2 separate regions of the Homo sapiens genome follow, and region 1 is linked to region 2. The links come from fine-mapping of genetic effects on gene expression. A gene starts in region 2. The other region holds a variant in brackets. All regions are shown on one strand. Distances are from middle to middle.

Region 1 (2,916 bases), 26 kb before region 2:
GAGCAGCACAGCTCACTTAGGAGGAATGGGGTGAGGGTGGGGACAGAGCTAGTGACATGGGCCTAACACCCTGGCCAGTCTGGGTGCTGGTTCCACCCTGGGTGTGCCTAGGGCCTGTGCGTTATACCTTAATGAGGGGTTGGGCCAATGGTGATGTGTTTCATCCTTTTTTAATGAGGTGCTGTTTTGCATAGATAAATAGTATGATTGTGATGTGGGAACCAAATGGCAGATCATTTTGCAAAAAGCACTGGGCAGAGGTGAGATTATGAAACCAGTTCTGCTTCAGGCCTGCTGCCTGAGCGTGGGAACCCGGAGGTGTCTGAGTCTGGGCCTCAATCTGGGCCGACTGGATCGAGGCCGCCCTCTCTAGTTCACCTCTCAGCAGCTGGGCTGGGACAGGAAGATGCCTCTCCACTTTTTACCTGTGTTTCAGTATCCCAGGCAGGGCAAGCAGATGGGGGAAGGCAGGTGGCCTCCCACCTGCTGTCCTCACGTGAACATATGGTCTGAGGTTGATGGGACCAATGATCTGGTCTGAGGCCCGGGACCAAAGCTCTTAACGTGTATGGAACTGATTTCTTATTGCTGGAGAATAAGAGCTGAAGATTTAGGTGCTGTAGGAGGTGGGTCTTGGGCAGTCCAGTCTGAGGCTCAAAGAGGTTTTGTGCATTGTTGAAAAGCAGGAAACAGGGAAAAGGAAAACATCCTTGGTTCTGGGTTTACAATGGACTTCCTAGCTGCGGTAGTTGGATCTCAGAAGAGGAGGTAGAGGTCTGAAGGGAGAGGCTGCTTGCACAGTCAGGCGGGAGAACTCAAGCAGGGTGGAATGAGATAGAGAAGACAGTTGAAGAAGAAGAACCAGGGCTCAGATTTCTAGACGGAGGATGTTCCTGTAATGCCCCACTCAAGTGGGACTTTGGAATGGCTGGAATGGTCATCCAGCAAATAAACGTACTGCACATTGTTTGTGCTTTAATGTACCCACATGCCTGCCTTTTGTCAGGTTCAAAACACCAGATCCAGGAGATAAGTAAAGCCAAGACCAGCGCTGCCCAGGATGGAGACACAGGTGCCTACTTCTCCAGTGGTGGCTGCGGCGAAGGCAGAAGTGAGAGTGCCCCCTACAGAATACATCAGGGAGAGGCAGCCTGGGGTATCAGTATGAGCCTAGGCAAAGGCCATCCATTCATTCACTCTGTGGACAACCATTTGTGGAACACCTACTGAGGTGTCAATAAGACAAAGATCCCATCTTCGAGGAAGCGAGATCAGAATAACTTCCTCACATTACACATCTGGAGAGCAACCAGTTTTTTTCCTCCCGGTTTTCCGTGGTTCCTCGGC[A/G]CACTGTCACAACTGCAGCCCTAGGTAGGAGGTGAGACTTGGCTAATGGTCTTCCTTACATCCAGACCTCCACTTCCCTCTTCTACTGGTGGAGCAGCTGGGGAAGGGCAGGATGAGAATTGGGGGAGTTGGCTCTACTCTTCCCAAGGTCTTAGGACTCAATGGGACGCCTCTGGATAGTTCCCAGACATGTTGGGTGGTGTGGCAAGGAGTGTTAATGATTTAATGATGCAATTCAATTATGCCAGGCTGTTAATGAGCTAAGTGCAGTATCTTTATTATGCATCAAATACTGGAACACATTAAGTACCTGTAGTGTCTCAGGTCTTCCCCACATGCTACATTAAAATCATGATTCTATAAGAAGCTCATAACCCCTGCTTGTCTAACTTCTTCAATGATCTGACCTTAAATTGATCTGTAAAACCAACTGTGACCTTTATCCTAGAGCTTCAAGAAAGTGGCTTAATAGGGGATTACAATATTCATGTTTCATGTCATCCCAGGAATGGTCTTTGGTCCTTATTCTACTGCGTTCTCACTGTAGGGAACCACTGTAGATTCCTACCACACCACTAATTCCAGTTCTGGAAATGAATTCTATAAAAATTATTCAACAGAAGCAAAAAAAACCTACATGTTTGAAGATGTTCACTGTGCTTAAAAATTGGAAATGATACAGCACATAGAAGATATAAAATATTAGAGGACTAATTGTGCAAGTTATAGGAAATCTGTGTGTGGTATATTATTTAAACATTAGAAATGATAATGACAATGCCTTTGCCACATAGTGGAAGATGTCTCTTATATCATAGTAAACAGAAAAGGTAGAATATAAATCAGTATGTACCTTTGGCAATCAGTTGGCATGCATGTTGAAGGCTGTTTGCAAAAGATAATTATGTTAGGATAATGAGGTATAGGTGCCAAGCACGGTGGCTCACACCTATAATCTAGCACATTGGGAAGCCAAGGCAAGAGGATCACTTGAGGCCAGAAGCTCGAGACTGGCCTGGGCCATATAGCAAGATCTGTCTCTACAAAAAATAGGTGGGATTGGTGGTGTGAGCTTGTAGTCGTAGCTACTCTGGAGGCTGAGGTGGGAGGATCACTTGAGTCCAGGAGTTTGAGGCTGCAGTGAGCTATACTTGTGATACAGAGCCTGGGTGATACAGACAGGTCCTGTCTCAAACACACAAAAAGAATGGTGAGATGTAGGTAATTTGATTATCTTACAATATTAGTGTTAAGGCTGGATGTAATTTTCAAGCACACTAAGAGAAGGAAAAAAATCCTACCTTAGAATATTATAGCAACATCTCATGATTAACCATTTTCTTCATTACGCTCAACTTGCTCCCAAAGTGAGGTGTGGGAACTGGTGGTGTCTGAGTGACCTTGGAATTGTACTCAACAAGCTGATTCCTGGGCTCTGCCCCACCTAGAACCAGAATCCTTTGGGGCATCATCCAAGAATTGGCAGTTCAGCCAAGCTTTGCAGTGATTTTAATGCACGTTCATGTTTGAGAACCACTGTTCTAGAAGTTCTCAGAATCAAATTGTAAA
Region 2 (2,916 bases):
AAAATATACCCTCTAATAGACTCAGAGTTGCTGACAGGCCCTCTCCATGGGTTGATGTAACCGTCTCCTTACCTCAAGACGAGGTTGACCCATCCAAGATTGGAGGGAACTTATCCTATTTTCAGATTATTTCCAGGGAAGGGAGCCCATGACATTATTAGGCAATCTTTTCCAGTGTCTCAAAACCCCAGACATTCTGGGTACCAGACCTTTCCTGCTGCACCTGAAGTTGATTTTCCTTGGTCAGTAAGTGCTTTGTCAGGCCACAGACTTTTCATGCACTCAAAGGCTCTAGTTACACCATCCCTAGCGTAGATCTGATGGTGCCAAGTAACAAGCCAGCAAGTGGACTTTGGAGGCCCAGCAAGCCTCCCTGTCTCACAGGCTTCTCATCAGTATAATGGATAAACAGTGCGAGGCTTGGATTCCTAAGCAGTCCTGGGACACAGGCCCCGCCAGGCCCTGGCAGGTGAAGAGCCTACCATTTCTCACTTCATTTAGGATGTATAATAGTTTGTTGGACGCTAGAACTGTACCCTTTCAGATCTGTGTCTTTACTTTTCAGCTGGAGGCCTCTTGCTGACAGGGTAGCGTTTCCCAAAGACACGGGAGCTGAGCTGGTGAGTCATTTCAACAGCCCTTACACTCTCCTCTGACCAGAGACCACATGACATATTAATCAGCTGCTTGAAAGGTATACCTGGCAGGCATGTTTCCTGCAGCCTGGAAGATGCTGACCTCGTCAGCTTTGAAACATCAAAGGGCTAACAAGAGAACAACAGGCTGAGAAAGACCTCATCACCTGGGTGCCTGTTGACCGCAGCCTTGTAAGGCCCAACACAGCTGAGATGTGCTGTCTGGAGCTCGGAGGAAGTGGAGCTTTTTCTGCTGTGAGGACCCGCCTTCAGCCCCCTTTTGGGGCACAGGAAGGGGAGGGAGTGAGCCTAAATTGTGGCCCCATGCTTAGTGACTCAGATGTTACTGCTACCACAAAGGGAAATTCATGTGGGGGTGGACATCTCCAGAGACCTCACTCACCTGTGATTTGGGGGATAATAGCATCACTCATGTGTTCACGTGCCAGGCCTGTCACCCCGGAACATTAGTCAAAGGGCTGTGTTGACAGTGATTTCAACTCTTGAATTATACGAAGGACCTGGCCGCAAGAAGGCATTGAGCCCCGAGGAGGACAACAGGCCTCAGGTACTTCATGTGATTAAAGCTGAGACAAGGGGAGTCCCATGGGTCAGTCCTGTAACTGGGGTCTGATATACACTAGTGATAGGCATTAGCATAGTTTGCACATTATATGATAGTCTTGGTCCTTTTCATTTCCTGATAAGCTGGAATGTCTGACAGAGTAAATTCCAGATGCCCTTGTGGAATTCTCATTACGATCATGTTGCTAAGGAACTGTCTTCTACCTGTATGCAATTTGGAAATACTATTAATAGTATTAACATGGAGTTTTGCAGTGTGTGGGTTTATTTCTTATTGTATTTATAATCACCCCCACCACTACCTTCCCACCGCTGGCTCACCATCTGAGGAGCTGGCATCAGGAAACTCAAGAAAGAAGGAAGGAAGGAAGGAAGGAAGGAAGGAAGGAAGGAAAGAAGGAAGGAAGGAAGGGAAAGGTTGTCCAGGCTTCACAGGAAGAACTGCATTTGTATTATTCTGTATTGAATTCTCAGGACCTCCACATTGCAGGCATCTAGAGGCTCCAATTAATAGTTGATAAATCTTGAAGGGAGGAAAAAATAGTCACAGAAAGTTCACTTGAGTGACCTGAAATTCTATAGCAATTTAGCCAGGGAGCCGGGAGGAGAATATGCCCTTCCAACTTGCAGGCCAGCTCTCTGCAGGAAGCCAGGCAGCTCTCCCAGGGGAAGCAGTGGCCAGGGCAAGCATGGGTCTTGAAGCTCAGGACTGGCTTTAGGACTCTGGCTCAGACAAGATGGGTGGCTCAAAGGTATTGAAGGGCTAGGTAGGGCCCTGAAAATTGGGCCTTTCTGCAGCAATCATCAGGGAGACTAATGGTCCTGGGCTAGGGAAGGAGTCTTCTTGGCCCAGAATGGCCAAGCAGCCAAATATTAGAGCACCTCCAGGGAGGTGTCCCTGGAAAGGGTCCTCCCCCAGTCAGCTCCTGCGGAGTGCAGGCAGGTTTGGGGGTCTCTCCTCTAGGAGAGATCCAGGGAGCTTGAGAGCAAAAGTGACAATGTGCCTGCCTTCTTCCTTCTCTGTAGGGCTCTGTTCTCTTTCTTCTTTTTTGAGGCAGGATCTTTTGCTTTATTGTCCAGGTTGGAGTGCAGTGGCATGATCACGGCTCACTGCAGCCTCAGCCTCCTGGGCTCAAGCAATCCTCCCACCTCAGCTTCCTGAGTAGCTGAGACCATGCCTGGCTAATTTTTAAGTTTTTTTGTAGAGACGAGGTCTCATTGTGTTGCCCAGGCTGGTCTTGAACTCCTGGGCTCAAGCAATTCTCCCACCTCAGCCTCCCAAAGCACTGGGATTATAGGCGTGAGCCACTGTGTCTGGCCTGCTCTCTTTCTTAAGGAGAAGGCTTCTGTTATTTTTTGGTCAATTGGGTGCAGAAAGCCTGTTCCCCATGGACAACCCTTGAGGGGGTCAGAATGTCAGCAGAAGGGAAAGGATGGCTTTCCAAGAGTGTTCTGTGCTTGGGCATAACCGTCTCTTGTGTCCTGCTCCTGAGAGCCATGAGACTAAGAGCATGGGACAGAGGCAGTGACTGAACTGGGCTTGAGAACACCTTTGTTTGCTGGGCCTGTTTTCCTACCAAGAGCCTGTCAGCCCGGGTTTTGGAAGGCCAATCCAGGAGAATACGGGAGGTTGCAGGCAGCTCTGACCAGCCTGTCTCTCCCCACCCCTTGTTTCAGACCTCTCCAGAGTCCGATG

Evidence for each region.
Region 1: its variant is fine-mapped to the expression of RAD51B-AS1 in whole blood (GTEx, PIP 0.97).

What each region holds. Positions count from the first base shown.
Region 1 is chr14:68,709,173-68,712,088 of GRCh38, reverse strand. No RefSeq gene overlaps it. Among named protein-coding and RNA genes, the nearest start is that of RAD51B-AS1, 25 kb to the right of the region's middle. The variant A/G (reference allele first, on the strand shown) is at 1,348.
Region 2 is chr14:68,683,658-68,686,573 of GRCh38, reverse strand. RAD51B-AS1 (RAD51B antisense RNA 1) reads left to right here and starts at 1,134. Exons shown (of 4, transcript XR_007064220.1): 1 at 1,134-1,203. RefSeq lists enhancers at 797-846, 2,430-2,916.